Linked DNA regions of Homo sapiens. The protein of the gene in region 1 interacts with the protein of each later gene in a pairwise test. Each region holds a gene or a part of one and is shown on either strand. Other genes may lie near its edges.

Region 1 (7,976 bases):
GAGGAGGAGGGCTGGGTGCCAGATTAATTTAACTATAAAAGGTATCAAAAGAAAGTTTTCACAAGCCAAACTAACACCATAGACAAAAACCACCTAGTAAGTGCCTGCTATGCTCCAAGCCAAAGATTTTCTAGAACCCTAGCAAATATCCATGACAATGTCATAGTGAAAGAAATATAATTCTATCTTTGTTTTTAAAGAAGGTAGCACTCAAACCACTTCCAATTATGTTTGTGTGAAAGCTGACAATTTGAACCATAAACGCTGCTTTGATGTGGCATCTGGCAAGTGTAATGTTCTCTTCTCATAAGGTCTTCTATCAGAAGCCACTTTAGATATTCCCAGAGAGACACTGCACAGGACCACAGATAAACCAGACAAAATGTGTTCTTCTGGATTTCCCTATAGTTTAAATATATATATAAAGAGATTAAGCCAAAGTTGTTCCCCTCTGAGCCATCATCTTTCTGCAGACTTTCTGGATAAATGTGGCCCAGCTGTCTCACTGACCTTGCAGGACACTGGAACTTCCCGCTTCCAAATGCCATGAAGCAGTCCAAGAAAGAGTGCTTCTCTAAATTTGCCTTTTTCCAACGTTCCTGTGGGAAGAAAACATTTTTTTTTCCAAATCAGCCTTATATAAATAAGCTTAACTTTATTTCTCTAGGCTAAAAATGACCTTGTACAGCTAATCCTTGCATATAAAGTTGCAGGGTTGTTGGTAATTTTTTCCACCCTGTTATTAATATTAGACACAATTGTGTTTCTGGAACATGAACTTATAAATAAAAAGGTTTTTAAAAAATTCTGTTAAGTGGTAAATGTAAATGATAAGGTAAATCAACCACAGAATTGACCTAAGAAGAGGAAGAATATTTATAATAAGGTCTCAGGCTCCGTCATAAAATTGCTCTTGGTAATAAATTTAGTAGTAAGACACTGACATCCCTGCCTGTTAGAAAAAGCTTGGGATGCAGAATGAATGCATCTGGATGCCATTTTTGACAGTTTTACCTAAAGGCAGAGAACAGACTAAATGACCTCTTAACATTCTGTTCGGCCCTGTAACTTTCCAGTTCTAAGAAACAGCAGATCACGGTTTTAATTTGCTTTATTTGTATTTTTTTGTACTCCTTGGAAACCAATGACAGAAGCAATTGCCTGAAGAACATGAAATAAGTCTTCTATCAAAAACAGGCTTATTCACTTGAACATGCCCTTCTGGTTTCATGTAAAATGTATTTTAAAGTTAGAGAAGTTTACTACAAAAACTTTTCTAACTGATTTGTAAATGTTGCACTATCTATATTGCAAATCTGTTCTGTACTTTGTAGTCAACTTTGTTCTTAGTTACGAGAGAAATATGGCTGCTTAATTATATAGTCCTAATTAATTTCTGAATTTACCCTTCTGAAATAAAAAGAAATTAAAATGAAAGAATAATATATACTGAAAGAGATAACTTACAGGTTTGAACAATTCAGGCTCAGGAAAATACTTTGGATTTCTATGCAGCCAAAATGGAGACAACATCAACAAGTCACCAGAAGGAATGATGTAATTCTATAACAGAAAAATCAGCTGCAAATCATTTTTTTGAAATATACTTTAAAGAGAATTTGGGCCACTAAAAATGATGCTACAATTATATTGTGGTGAAGATATACCTTTTATAATTGAATGTGAGAAAATCTAATTTTTAATATCTATATAATTATATAATATCTAATTATAAATAATATAAAATCTAATAATATAGTATCTATATAATTCTGATTTCCATATACATATATTTGGTTACATAGAGGAAATTATATAATTCTGATTCACATGTACATATATTCAGTTATATGGAAGGAAATATTAGCTAAATGTCAAAATTTTAGAAACTAGTATAAGTCCCTTCTAATGTACCTTTTGATGTTTGATATTAGGGTTTGTGGCCAGAGTTCTTGAAGGCAGAAACTACAGTGGAGGCTCAGGTTATGAAACAGAAAAATTGGACTCTGAGACAGGGACAATGGCCATGGTAGCACTGAGAAGAGGGGCAGAGGATGTCCTGTTCTTGTGGATACTAATGACAGTGTTAGAGCAGGGGCAGTGGACTTTTCTTTCCTCAGTCCAGCACCGGTTATTAGGAAAGAAACAAATGAAAAACGACTGGTTAGGAAGACACAGGAAAAGGCAAGTGTTGTGTATTTGTTTGGTTGGGTTTGTGTTTGGGGTCACAGTGCTTGTGGAAATGAGGATAAACAATGTGTTTCCTCAGGTAGTCTACATTATCCTTCCTGATTCATATGACAACAGATTTTCATGATCTATAAACTATACAAAGAACTAAAACCCATTTCACAAAATCTCCCTATCATCACCATGTTCAGGAATCACAGGACAAAGAGATCTCCCAAGTTTTATAATTGCTAGATAGCTACCAACTTTACTAAGGTAGAGATATTTTATTAGGTAATTCCCACTGCCCATCATCATAAGCCACATCTATTTAACCGTGTATAATTTTGAAATGTCCTCAAGATATTTGAAAAACTTTTACTTTAGGTTTACTTATCCAAAGCATAAACACCTTACAATTAAAAACATGTCTTCTGCTGGGTGTGGTGGCTCATGCCTGTAATCCTAGCACTTTGGGAGGCCTTGGTCGGAGGATCCTTTGAGCTCAGGAGTTTGAGACCAGCCTAGGCAACATAGGAAGACCTTGTCTCTACAAAAAAATGAAAAATATTAGCTGGGGATGATGGTGCACCTGTAGTCTCAGCTACTTGGGTGGTTGAGACAGGAGGATTGCTTGAGCCCAGGAGGTTGAGGGTACAGTGAGCTATGATTGTGCCACTGTACTCTAGCCTGGGAGACAGAGTGACATTCTGTCTCGAAGAAAAATAAAAATATGTCTTTTACTGGTAGCTATGAGTGGAGTATGGGTAGGGATGTCATCATTTTTTTAACCCAGGAGAACCCCTGTTGGCTCTAGTGGCAGCTGAGTATTGCTTGAGATTTGGCAATTTCAGAACTGGGAGAGCTGGAGAGACTCAAATCCAAGACTGGGAAGACAGTGAAGCTTTTGCAGGTACCTTCTATCATTTTAAAATAGAGAGACCTGTGAGATCCCAATCCTGTCTGTTTTACTTCCATTGGAACTGAGGCTAGAGAGGTCATTACTGACTCTGGAATCAGCCACAGAGGGCCGTGATGTGTATTTGAGAGCAGGGTTGGGGGCAGCACAGGGATGGGCCTTCAGTCAGGACAACCACAGCCCTTCCCCTTCCCACCGCAAAGTCCTCTTAAGTTGCTGTTGACCTGTGATCATGACTTGGAGGCTGCTGACTGTTGTAGCCTATAAAGCAGGTTAGCAAAGGGAGGAGAACTTCATACAGGTCCTCAGTAACAGAATTACCACTAGCAACAGGGAGGAGACAAGAAAGAGGTGCCTGTTGCAGCAGCAGCAACTGCCAGACTGATAAATAGCATGAAGGAATGAATGCTGGAGCTGGTTCTGTCAAGAAACCCTCTGAGCAAGCAGACATCATCACGCCCAGCCTAAACAGTCCCTATCTTTACTTACATGACAGATGAAGTGAAAGATCAAGAGGGAGGCAAAACAGTTGCAGAATGAGAACACAGATCACTAGCAAAGGGAAGCTACAACTTCTGTGTGTTGCAAGAACTGCATCTCTCAGGTAGACAGAATTGAGCCTGGCCAGCCCACCTCACCTGGATGGTGTGAAGCCAAAACAAGCTTCATCTGATAATCTAGAAGTGGGGCTTTCTTTAAAAAAGGAAGAGAAGGCAGGACTCTGTGTTGTAATTCAAGAAAGGTGCTCAGAGCTAAGTGGGTGCCAGGAATACATAATCTTAAAGAGAAAGGAGGAGTCCAGAGGCAACACATCTATAGCAGGAGGTCTAAAGCACACAGCCTTTTCTCCTAGCTTTCAACCAGAGGCTTGGTTGGTGTTTGTGCCGAAAAAAAATAAAAACAAAATAAGTATTTTTTAAATTAAAGAGTATATTCTTTTGTATGATAAAAACTTATCTCTACAAAAAGTTTGGAAAATTCTGAAAAGCAGAAAAACTAGAAAAGAAAATCCAGAGTTCTGACACCCAAAGACAGTCATTAACTAGCTAGATTTCTTTCCAGTATGTTTACTTAGTATTAATAGGAGATATTTTGTTGTTGTTAAACTTTAAACATAGTTTTGATCCTCCTGAATAACCAATTTAATCTTTCTTAGTTCTCTTAACTTCATAACCTGTTTTCCCTTTTTATTGTATATTCATGGTGAATATTTCTTCCTCCAATGACTGTTTAATCTTCCATTGGGTACATTAAACAATAATTAATGTAATCATTCCCTACTTTTTTTCCTGTGGTAAATAGTGCCACCATAAGCACTTTCTTCCACACAGCATTTTTCCACATAGATTCTGTTAACACAGATGTTCAGATGACACAGGACATGCATATTTTAAGGCTATAAATGCATGTTATTCAACTGTTTCCTCAAATTTTGTAGCAAAATATATTTCTAACTATAATTTATGAGAATGTAAGTTTCATTACCCTTTTATCTGTAATCTAACATTTCTAATGGTTGTTTTAGGTTTACATTTTTATGTTTTTACATTTACATTTTTATGTTTGAGAGTTTTTCCATTTATTTTATCCTATAAACTTTTATGTTCTGTCCTGATTAACCTATGTGACACTCATTCTTATTGATTTGTGTCAGTTCTTTAAATATTAAAATTATTTATAGTTGTGTTGTATATTGATGTTTACATTATATTCACATTTGAGTTACACTTTTAAAAAATGAGACATTAAATTTTGCTATGGTACATTCAAATCTGTTTATCCTTTTTGTGGCTTCATTGATTAATCTTAAAATCAGGCAGTCCTCTTCTTTTTATAAAATAAATATAGTTAATGTTTTAGAAAACTATGTATCATGTTAGCATGTAAGAGGTTTTTGTTATTTTAAATGAATCACCAAATTAATATTTTAACAATTTCTCAGTTTAAATTTAAAATATAGCTAATATTGATAGATTTAAAATAGACATAGACAAAAACTCTTTGGGATCTTCAATAATTCTGAAGAGTGTGATGGGATCATGAAACCAAAAAGTTTGAGAACTTCTACTTAAGAAGTTTAAAAAAAACCCACTTTTAGTCAGTCATCCCAAGCCACATATTAATTTCTTCCCTTTACATTGATTTATTAAAAGAGTCACTTATCCTACATTAAATTATTATGTATAAGGAAGCTAATTCTTTGTTATCTTTCCAGTTATTTCTATTGATCTGAACATCTGGTCTGACACCGGGATCATAACATTTTAATTCTTTTGGCTTTATAACAGGTTTTAAAGGATAATTAATATTTCTCAATTACTCATCTTTTCCAATACTCTTTTTTGTTACTCTTTTCTGGATATTCTTGAAGATAAACTTTTCTACTAAACATATAAAACCTTGAAAAGAGAACACAGGTAGAAGTTTCAGAGTTTTAGAAAGGTAGCATAATAAAGAGAAAGAAAGAATGCAGTAAATCCAAGAAAGTAGAGAGTGTTCGTCCATTTCAATTCATTCCATTTCCAGGAAAGGGCACAGAGGCAAAAGCAAACAAAGAGAGCCTGTTCGAACTACCTTAGGGAAGGGTGGTGGGAGAATACTTCTAGTATGCATAAAAAGGAACATTGACCAGTTGCCCAACAGAGGAGAAAATATGAGCCTCTGTCATTACTCAACATAGATAAGCCCATGTGAAATGTGTTTTAAAATACAAATTTCTGGGAACATATCGTTAAACTTCAGTTCAGCAAAAACATTCCACCTGTTTTTGAAAACATATGAATCTTGAAAGAACCAAATTGTATGAATTTATACTAAGGAAATAATTAGTAATGTATACAAGGATTTAGCTAAAAGGATGTTCATCTTCACACTGTTTATAGAAGTGAAAAATTGGAAGCCACATACATATGCAAGAACAGGGACTAGTTTAAAAATGTATACTATATCCATATATTAGATGACTTTGCTACCAATTCAAAATTGTGTAGATGTGTTTTATTAAAACAGAAAACTTTTCAGCTGAGCGTGGTCGTTTATGCCTGTAATCCCAGCACTTTGGGAGGCCAAGGCGGGCAGATCACCTGAGGTCAGGAGTTCCAGACCAGTCTGGCCAACATGGTGAAATCCTGGCTTTACTAAAAATACAAAAATCAACTGGGCATGATGGCACACTCCTGTAATCTCAGCTACTTGGGAGGCTGAGGCAGGAGAATTGCTTGAACCTGGGAGGTGGTGGTTGCAGTGAGCCAAGATCATGTCACTGCACTCCAGCATGGGCAACAGAGATGCAAATAATTACCACATTAACATAACCACAAAGTAAAACAATCTAAATTCTGAAGAGTCAAAAACTACTAAATATTTATGCTTTCAAGAAAATGGACTATTATGTGACCACTGAAATAAATGTGAAAACTCTCTAGATGCATAAAAAGTGAAGAATTAGTGTTAAAAAAATTTTAATGACAGATTTACACTATGCTGAAACTTTGGTTTCTATATTAATGTCATACAAAGAGAATATTAGATAGTTGCGGTAGTACATTTAAGAGGTTGTGCAGATGGGGTATTGTGCATGCAAGAGTATACATCTGTGTGCATGTGTTTGAGCATGGGTATCTCTTCTGGCAAAGTTGTCAAAATAAGTAAAATTACTTTTGAAAGAATATGGGAGGTTAATAGCCCCAACAAAAGTTACAACTCCCTTTATAACATAATCCTGACTAATACATGAGGTTAAAAGACCGTGGAAGAGCTACTTGTAGGTTGTAGTGAGCTGAGATTGTGTCACTGCACTCCAGCCTTGGTGACAGAGACCCTGTCTCAAAAAAATTAAAATAAAATAAAAATAAATAAAAGTATGAACTGTTGAAATCCCACAAAAACTAAATACTCTAATTTACATAAGGTCAGTTAAATAAATCATGTCTCCTTTGGAAGCAAAAGTTTCAACTTTTACAAAATTTGGATTTTTATCTGTGTTCTATTACAAAATTTCCTTGGTTTGAATCCAAGCACTCTCAAGCTGCATATAAAAAAGCAAACAATAGTAGAGGACTGATTAAATGTGATCCATTTGGATAATGCAGGCCCTAAGTCAAATCATTTCAAAAAAAATAATTTGTTATGCCATATTGATTCACAAATATTTAACTAATAAGTCTGCCATGTGCACATACCCTTTCATGGTGCACTTGAGAATTTCCTCCTACTTTGTCCATAGAAAATCCTCTCACCTTCACTCAGCTGCTGCCTCCTAATATAAATTGAGATTATCCAATATATTCCTGTTATCTGTTCCCATATCTGTAATCTGTGGCCTAAAATTGTCTTCCAGCTATGCAAAATAACTTTCTTCACATCCTGAATTCCTTAGCTCATTGGTGCTAAGAAATTCATGTTGGTTGAATCAGTAGACAAGAGACCATTCAATTCACCTGCCTGATTTAAATAGGATTATATTGATTCTGATTCAGAATCAGATGGCCAGAATGATTATTAAAGGGTTATTATGTTTTACTTAAAGTACTTGCCATAAGATAAATATCTATATTAATGAAACATTGCTACACAACTCTTATTAATAACCTGTTCTAGGGTCATTTTGTGCTCAATGGAATTCAAGAAATTACATAATATATGCTATCAAAATTCTAATGACATTTTTACAGAAATAGAAAAAACATATGAAACTACAAAAGACCCTTGAACAAAGAAAAAACCTGAATCATCACACTATTTGACTTCAAAATATATTATAAAGCTACAGTAATCAAAACAGCATGGTACTGGCATAAAACCAGGCACATAGATCAATAGAACAGAATAGACAGCCCCAGAATAAATACACACATTTACAGTCAATTGAATGTCAACAAAGGTTCCA
Region 2 (8,401 bases), on another chromosome or scaffold:
TCTAATATTGTTATAGGTATGCCTTCTTGAAATTCCACAGGTTCACTTTAGCTTTTCTAGGAAATAACAAAATTCCTTAAATTTCCTTTGACCCAGATTTAGTATAACTTCAAAGGAAGGAGATTTTTTTCACATTTATGATTTTATTTTGGTTTTACACAAGTAAATTTTGGAAGACTATGTTTCTTTGCCTCTAGAAGGGTGAGACAGCTGCCTGATTTTTGGCAGTTACATGCATGTATTCTGTGCAGCTACATGATGACAAACGTGATCTTTGCTGCTTTTGCCCAAGCACTTATTTTGCCAGTCCAGTCATAGTGAAATGTGGGATGCCATTTCTAAGAGCACATATTAAGGGACTTTTTAAAAGGAGGAACCTTCACGAAATACTTCACTTCCTAAAGGCTTTATTGGATGAAATCTTCAGAGACCAGCTAATGCTCAACTTAAAGGTTTTCTTAGAAAATGTTCAACCATCCAATCCTGTTATCATTAATACATTTTAATTTATATGAAAACAATGAGTTTCTCATAATTAAGGTAAGATTCTTATGCTTCATCCAAATGGCTTGATAAGAAAAAAATGCAAACAAACCATGAATAGTTTCAAGGAAGATAGAGAAATAATCATAAGGGCTGTAAGCTCTTTGTAGTCAGGAATGATGCTTCTTGTCTAGCAGTACTACAGGTGGAACATATTCAATAATATTAAAAGATTATTTGATGGTAATACTGATTTACCATAATGTTTTTATTCTAAGTTGTTTCATATTAATAAATCAATGCTGTGTGTTACAGGACAGTTTTTAATAAGTTTAGTCTGGGTATAGATAGACTGATTTTTCCATTAAGTACTGACTAGACTGAGAAAGTAAGTACTTCTTTTGGACGTGGGGGACCAAGAAACACCTTTGTCATTACATAACCATACAAGGTACACATACTTTTTACTTGTCAAATAATCAGTCAGTGCTTTTCCCTCCTAAAGATATTTATTCTTCAATGGTGTATCTGAGAGACAGAATGTCCTGGGTAGCCTGTTTTTTTCCACAGATTTCATCCAAGATATCAGAAATCTATCTCTTTCAAAGTTTACCAAGTAAATATTTGTCTGCAAGGCAAGTAAATTAAACAAAGGGAAGAAAGGAAAACAATTATCATTAAACAGTATTACCATTCTATTGAAAAATGGTTTCATTTGAAAATAGATGTATTTTAAGAAGTGAATGGTAACTAATGGAGGAAATCAGCATGTGTTCAGGTAGAAGTGCAGCAGCCCTGGGCACCATCCCCTTGCCACTGGGCATACCTTGTCTAACCAGTGATAGAGCTGAACCACATGGTCCTGTCCCCCTGTCAAAAGTTATGGTTAGTTTAATCCTTGCTCCTCGGGAGGCTAAGGCAGCAGGATTGCTTGAGTCTAGGAGTTTGAAGCCAGCCTGGGCAACATAGCAAGATCCTGTCTCTTAAAAAAAAAGTTATGGTTATATGTGTGTGTGTGTGTGTATGTGCACGCGTGTGTGCGTGTGTGTGTGTGTATTTGGAGTCTCCTCTGTCATCCAGGCTGGAGTGCAGTGGTGCCATCAAAGCTCAATGCAACCTCGAATTCCTATGCTCAAGCTATTCTCTCACCTCAGCCTCCCAAGTAGCTAGGACTAAAGGCGTGCCCCACCATGCCTATTTTTATTTTTTGGAGAGACAGGGACTCACTATGTTGCACAGGCTGGTCTCAAACTCCTGGCCTCAAGCGATGCTCTTGCCTCAGCCTGTAACCCAAAGCCCTGGGATTACAGGGGCATGAGCCTAGAATTTATTAAGCCTTTTATTTTTAACATGAATGTTTTTCTTTTATAAAATTTATACAGGTTAGCAAGTATATATTCCTTGGTACAATTATTTGGTTAATGTTTGTCTCCCCTTTCATGGCAACAAAGACTGTACTGTTTTGCTTACCAATGTATTCACAGGGGCTGACATTATTGTAGGTGCTCAGTATATAGTACGTTTGTTAGAGAATATATGAGAATGCAGAAAGAAATGGATGGAAGACAGGGCTATAGAAATGGAAGGAAAAAGTAAACCATGGCCTCTTCAAAACAGTTTACGTATCTGCTGTTAAGACTATTGCTGATGCTGGAGCCATTTAAAGCCATTTTGAAGCAGGACATGCTTGCTAAGGAAATTGTCATTATATGTTGTCCCAATGAAAAAAAATAAATCGAAGTACTGTGGTATCTTTACTGTTCTATGTAAGTTCTATGTAAGTTCTCAGGGTTTGGCTATTTATTTGGTAAAAGAAGCTTACAGTATCCTAACTTGTTATTTATACATTGCTCCTATCCCATTTCTAGGCTTGAGTCTTTGATAACCATCCTTTTCCTCAAGATGAAATTTCATATGAAAAACACTTGAGCCGGCCGGCACGGAGGCTCACGCCTGTAATCTCAGCACTTTGGGAGGCCGAGGTGGGCAGATGATTTGAGGTCAGGAGTTCTAAACCGGCCTGGCCAACATGGTGAAATCCCGCCTCTACTAAAAGTACAAAAATGAGCCGGGTGTGGTGGTGAGCGCCTGTAATCCCAGCTACTCGGGAGGCTGAGGCAGGAGAATTGCTTGAGCCGGGGAGGTGGATGTTGCAGTGAGCAGAGATCGCGCCACTGCACTCCATCCCAGGCAACTGAGCGAGACTCCTTCTCAAAAAAACAAACTCCGGGCGCGGTGGCTCACGCCTGTAATCCCAGCACTTTGGGAGGCCGAGGTGGGCGGATCACGAGGTCAGGAGATTGAGACCATCCTGGCTAACATGGTGAAACCCCGTCTCTACTGAAAATACAAAAATTAGCCGGGCGTTGTGGTGGGCGCCTGTAGTCCCAGTTACTCAGGAGGCTGCGACAGGAGACTTGCGTGAATCCGGGAGGCGCAGCTTGCAGGGAGCCGAGTTTGCGCCACTGCACTCCAGCCTGGGCGACAGAGCGAGACTCCGTCTCAAAAACAAAAAACAAAAAAACAACAACAAAAAAAGAAAAACACTTGAGCCATGGGCCAGACATATCAACCCAAACACTGATTGATTACAAACCTCATATGTGACACCTAACAATAGGATCTCTCACTTTCTCCTTTGCAAGTACCGGACTCCTTCGTCTTCCTACCAGACTCCTCTTTGGGCATTTAACCAGTTCTTTTGCCAACAGCATCTCTAAATTGGGATTGCATCTTTGTAATAGACTAAACTTTTGTGAAACTGCCACATATCTGGAATATAAGTGAATTGTGTTACTCTTGTCCCCAGTGTTTCTTTTTTCCTTTTTCTTTCTTTTTTTTTTTTTTTTGAGACAACGTTTCATTCTGTTGCCCAGGCTGGAGTAAGTACAGTGGCTTGATTTCAGCTTACTGCAACCTCCGCCTTCCAGGTTCCAGTGATTCTCCTGCCTCAGCCTCCTGAGTAGCTGGGACTACAGGCGCACACCACCCTACTCGGCTAATTTTGGTATTTTTTTTTGTAGAGACAAGGTTTCACCATGTTGGCCAGGCTGGTCTCGAACTGCTGACCTCAAGTGATCCACCGGCTTCGGCCTCCCAAAGTGCCGAGATTACAGGCATGGGCCACCGCGCCTGGCCATCCCCAGTGTTTCTAAACGTGTCAAGTGTGATCCAAATTTCAAAGGTTTGGATTTTTTCTTAGATGACCTGATAACTTAGATTCTGCTTTTTTAGCTTTCTTGTCTCAGTGTACTGGACAATTTGCATTATTTCACGGAGGGCTCAACACTGTCAGTCAGCCAACAACGTCTCATCCCCAGGATACACCACTCCTTGAAACTTTCTTTTCTACTTGGTCAGTCTGTTAGGTTCTCAGGACGAGCGATTGCAGACCTGAGGTGATTTGAATGTCCTTGGTAAGAATCTATCCTCAAAGGGCCTTCCTGCTTCAAATGCCAGGTTATAGAAATTCTTCCACTGGGAGAGTTATTCCTTTGGATTAAAGCAGTACCGTGCCAGTGTTCTGCATTTTACATTTAAGGGGGGCAGACACATGAAGTCACCTTTCTGAGGTTTTCTGCAAAAGATTAGCTGTGGATCAGATCAGGTCTAGGGCAAGTATGAAAGCACTAGTGACCTTGGGGAGGGGGAGGAAGCTCTGGGATTCGGCGCTAGGGAAAAGTGGAAGAGGACAAACTTTTAAAAAATCCGTTACTGGGTATAGGCCACAGAGTGTCTTTCAGATTACAAGATTTTAAGATCTGGTGCTCAGACTCTTCTTGCTATGCTCCCCCCGGGTCCACCCTCCAGCCTCCCCCAGGCCCGCCTTTCTTCCGCAGCCCCGTGCCGGTCTTCGATCCCCACCTCTCCAGAAGAGCGCCGGCGGCTGCCGCGTACCTCCTTCCCCGCCTCTCCCACCGCGCAGCGCCGCGGGCCGGCGCCGCGCTTCCTACAGTCCTACGAAGGGGAGTAAAGCAGAAGACTAGCGCACTCTCCCTCAATTGTCACCCTCCAGCTTTTTCCCCCGTGCCCAAGGCTTTCGGTCACCTCTTCATAAATAATAAAAACCAGAGTCCAGAACCTGAATAGGCAACCGCTGATCGGTCCAGCTCGCTTCCCCGCCAGTGAAAAGCAATCTTATTTCAGCGTCAACGCTCTATGTCTTGCAGTCCGATTTCGGCTGACACACCCGTGCCGCTGTCCCCGCGCCGGGCCCTCGAGTCCTGTCACCTCGGGCAGCCTGCGCCTGGCTCTGGGGCCTGGGCCTCTCCCCTCCTCCTGCCCGCGGACCTTGCCGCCCCGCCTCCAGCCCGTGCCACGGCGGCCGCCATTGGCGCGGGCCCATCCCAGAACGGCGCCCATTGGCCCGGTGCGAAGCCATTCACCCAGCGCATTCCGCCGCCCGCAGGCTTGCGGGGAAACTTCCTTATTATTGTGACGCCGAAAACGGAGAAACCCCGGGTCCGGCGAGAGGGGCTGTGACAGTCGGAGTCCCAAGCTGCGGTTCGGCTGCTGCCGAGGTGCGCAGGGCGGGGGCCGGGGTTCCAGGGAGGGGGGTACGGCGGAGCTGCAGCCGCGCTGGGCCGCGTTCCGCCTGGCACTGCAGTCAGCGCGCGGCTCCCGGAGGGGCGGCTGCGGCTCCTCCCGTGGCTCCGGCGGCGGGGGCTGCAGGCACCTCCAGAGACGACCTGGGTCTGGGGCGCGGGGAGGTTGGGGCGCGGCGCCCTTAGTACCCTGCGTACGCCTCCCTGGCGTTCTCGTGGGCTCGCCCTCCGGTCAGAGAGCCCCGCGCCGGGAAAGGCGAGACAAGCCTTCAAAATGGGAGCGCCTCCCGCCCGCGCTCGGCCGCCCTCCCGCCCTGCCGCCCGGGAGGAATTGCGACGCAGAAAGTCAAAAGGAGGATAGTCCCTATGCTCGCCCCCTGCCCCTATTTAAATTCTGGGGTTCCAGGGACCTCCGTGCAGTGAGGGGCGCGGACGCTTTCAATTGAAATGGGAGCTGGCGAGGCCCTGGCATTTTGGGGAACCTCAGCGGCCGCGAGGAGTTTGCGCCGAGGACGCGGTGCACGGCGTCCGCGATGACAGCGCCGGCAGGGCTGCGGGGCCCGGCACCACCCACTTCGCGGAGGCCGGGCCGGCTCGCCTCTCCCGGGTCCGCCTCCTGGGCGGGGCCGGGGGCGAGGGTGTGTGCGGACACGTGTGTACGGGTGTGTGTGTGTGTGTACGCCGACACGTCGGTGCGGACCGACGCGGGGGTGTCAGGAGCTGGGACGGCCGGGGGCAGGTGAGACTTGAGTCATTTGTGAATGTGTGGAGTGGGCAAACCAGGGCAACCAGACCGAGAGGAGCATGTGTAACCTGAAACAGGTGAGCCTATGGAGACAGTACCTAATGCGACTGTGCACGGAATATGTGTATGCAGCATGAGCTCCAGGGAATAAGTATTTGAACTTTGCTGTTGGTCTGTCACTGTTTCTGGCTGCTTTCTGATTGCATTTTACATCAGCTTTCAAATGAGCTCAATTAGGAAGTACCTAATTCAGAGAAAAGCCTTCCAGGATTTTGCTTGCATTCATCACGCATAGAATGCTTTGGGAAAGACGATTCAAGAGCTCTCTTCCATTTGTATGTGTCTTCTGGCTCTTTCCACAAATAAGAAGCTATTTCTAGAACCTTTTATTTGATGATTAGATAAGATCAAGTGAGCTGATTTTTCAACTCTAGACTTGAGAGAAATGAAAAAATAAAAAGTTTTAAATGCGGTGATCGGGTATCATGTTTTAGTCGGCAGATTACTGTGAAGCTCTCTCCTTTTGTACTTTCCTTTACCCTGGGGGAGGAGGGAGTAGCATTATAAATCAGAAAAGCAAAGTACATGGATTGCATATCCTAAAGCAAAATAATTGAATTACATATTTTACATCATGGTCGTACCGCCTTCGAGGCTAGGAACTTTCTGTAAAAAGTATAATGCAGGGAACAAGGAGGACAGGTTAGAAACCTCTTTGGCAGAACTCCTTTGGCATGAAAAACAAAATTAGCACATTAGCACTAGCATCCAGTTCTTGTTCAGTAAGTAGCTGGAGTTTACTTTTTGAAAAAGAAACAGGGATTTCAGAATGTTCCATGTTGTGTGCTTGAAGCCATTCGTTATAGCATTTCATTCTGAAGACCAAATTTAAATTTCTTAAGATTTGTATGACCAATTAAAAACTTTTTTTATACTTAATGAGAGTAGTAGTACCCCTACTGGAGACACAAGATAGTTATGCTTCAGTTTTATAAGTAAAAGTACTATTCTCCAGATCGAATGGGATTTTCTGCATAGAGAGGTAGAAATAAAGTTATGACAATATCTTTTCTTTCGAGATGGGGGGTCTCGCTCTGTTGCACAGGCTGGAGTGCACTGGTGCGATCTCGGCTCACTGCAACCTCCGCCTCCCAGGCTCAAGCGAATCTGCCACCTTACCCTCCAAAGTAGCTGGGACCACAGGCGTGCACCACCATGCCCAGCTAATTTTTTGTAGTTTTTGGTTTCGCCAAAAGACGAAACGGGGTTTTGCCATGTTGCTCAGGCTGATCTCCAACCCCTGGGCTCAGGCTGTCCACCCGCCTGGGCCTCCTAAAGTGCTTGACAAAAATATCTTAAAATCATGGAGGACTTTTTCTTTTGAGATACTTTAGGTATCTCTCTGAGATGATCTCTTCTCATTTTGCATGATGGAGGATGTGGTAATGAAAAGGGAAAGACCGGGTGCAGTGACTGGCTGGGCGCAGTGGCTCACACCTGTAATCCCAGCACTTTGGGCGGCTTGAGACGGGTGGATCACTTGAGGTCAGGAGTTGGAGACCAGCCTGACCAACATGGTGAAACCCCTTCTCTACTAAAAATAGAAAAATTAGCTGGGCGTGGTGGCGGGCGCCTGTAATTCCAGCTACTTGGGAGGCTGAGGCAGGAGAATCGCTTGAACCTGGGAGGCAGAGGTTGCAGTGAGCCGAGATCGGCCACTGCACTCCAGCCTGGGTGAAAGAGCCAGACTCTGTCTCAAAAAAAAAAAAAAAAAAAAAAAGAAAAGGAATGAAAGGAGACAGTCTTCATAACAGTTGTGGCAAAACAAGCTGCTATGTGTCATACATGGAAAAATAAAGAAAATAGACAAAATTTAATTATTTTCCAAAATTTTCTCTAACAAAAATGGGAGATTTTAAAGTAATTCCATTTTTACTACTCCCTATCAAATGTCAGGAATTTTTATAAGGTGATATCTATATCTCTAGTTCACTTTTAGAGGTGATTGATGTCTTTATAACTGGTTAGAGGTTATCTTACTGGTATTTAACCAAACTCCTGTCTTGAGATACAATGCGTGGGGAATATTCAAGATTGAGTAATTTAAAGATATTCTTATTTTCAGAGGTTAACTCCTGTCTTTTTGTTTACAGTAACATGAAGACACAACAGAGTTCCATACTAATGTTATTTATTATTTCTTTAACTTGCAGAACTGCAAGGTGTGGAATATTTCTGGCTTCTAGTCCAATGCCAAGTGTGTGACCTGTGGTGAGTTACTTAATTTTTCTGGACCTCAGTTTTTCATCTTGTAAATGGAGTCCTTTACATGCATTATCCTGTTTAATACTCTCATCAACTCAAGCTAGGGTAGCTACCTAGAGAGGGACCTAAACAAATCTCAGTGCCTTCCTGCTGCTCTAAGATAGTGAAGAGAACAAGGTGAGCCCAAGAAGTAGGAGACCTGGTTTCTGGTCTCTGCTTCAAGCACTTAATTCTTTTTTTTTTTTTTTTTTTTTTTTTTTGAGAGGGAGTCTGGCTGTCGCCCACGCTGGAGTGCAGTGGCGGGATCTCGGCTCACTGCAGGCTCCGCCCCCCGGGGTTCATGCCATTCTCCTGCCTCAGCCTC

The links. The genes of interacting proteins can lie anywhere in the genome.
Region 2: the proteins of CYP39A1 (region 1) and HERC3 interact in binary tests that used the Homo sapiens proteins (3 or more experiments, as listed by UniProt).

What each region holds. Positions count from the first base shown.
Region 1 is NC_000006.12:46,586,567-46,594,542, forward strand, and holds part of CYP39A1 (24-hydroxycholesterol 7-alpha-hydroxylase), read right to left. Parts: intron 1,564-7,976; coding exon 1,468-1,563; intron 600-1,467; coding exon 511-599; intron 1-510. UniProt on the Homo sapiens protein: A cytochrome P450 monooxygenase involved in neural cholesterol clearance through bile acid synthesis. Catalyzes 7-alpha hydroxylation of (24S)-hydroxycholesterol, a neural oxysterol that is metabolized to bile acids in the liver.
Region 2 is NC_000004.12:88,587,572-88,595,972, forward strand, and holds the start of HERC3 (probable E3 ubiquitin-protein ligase HERC3), read left to right. Parts: upstream 1-4,908; 5' UTR 4,909-5,003; intron 5,004-7,985; 5' UTR 7,986-8,043; intron 8,044-8,401. UniProt on the Homo sapiens protein: E3 ubiquitin-protein ligase which accepts ubiquitin from an E2 ubiquitin-conjugating enzyme in the form of a thioester and then directly transfers the ubiquitin to targeted substrates.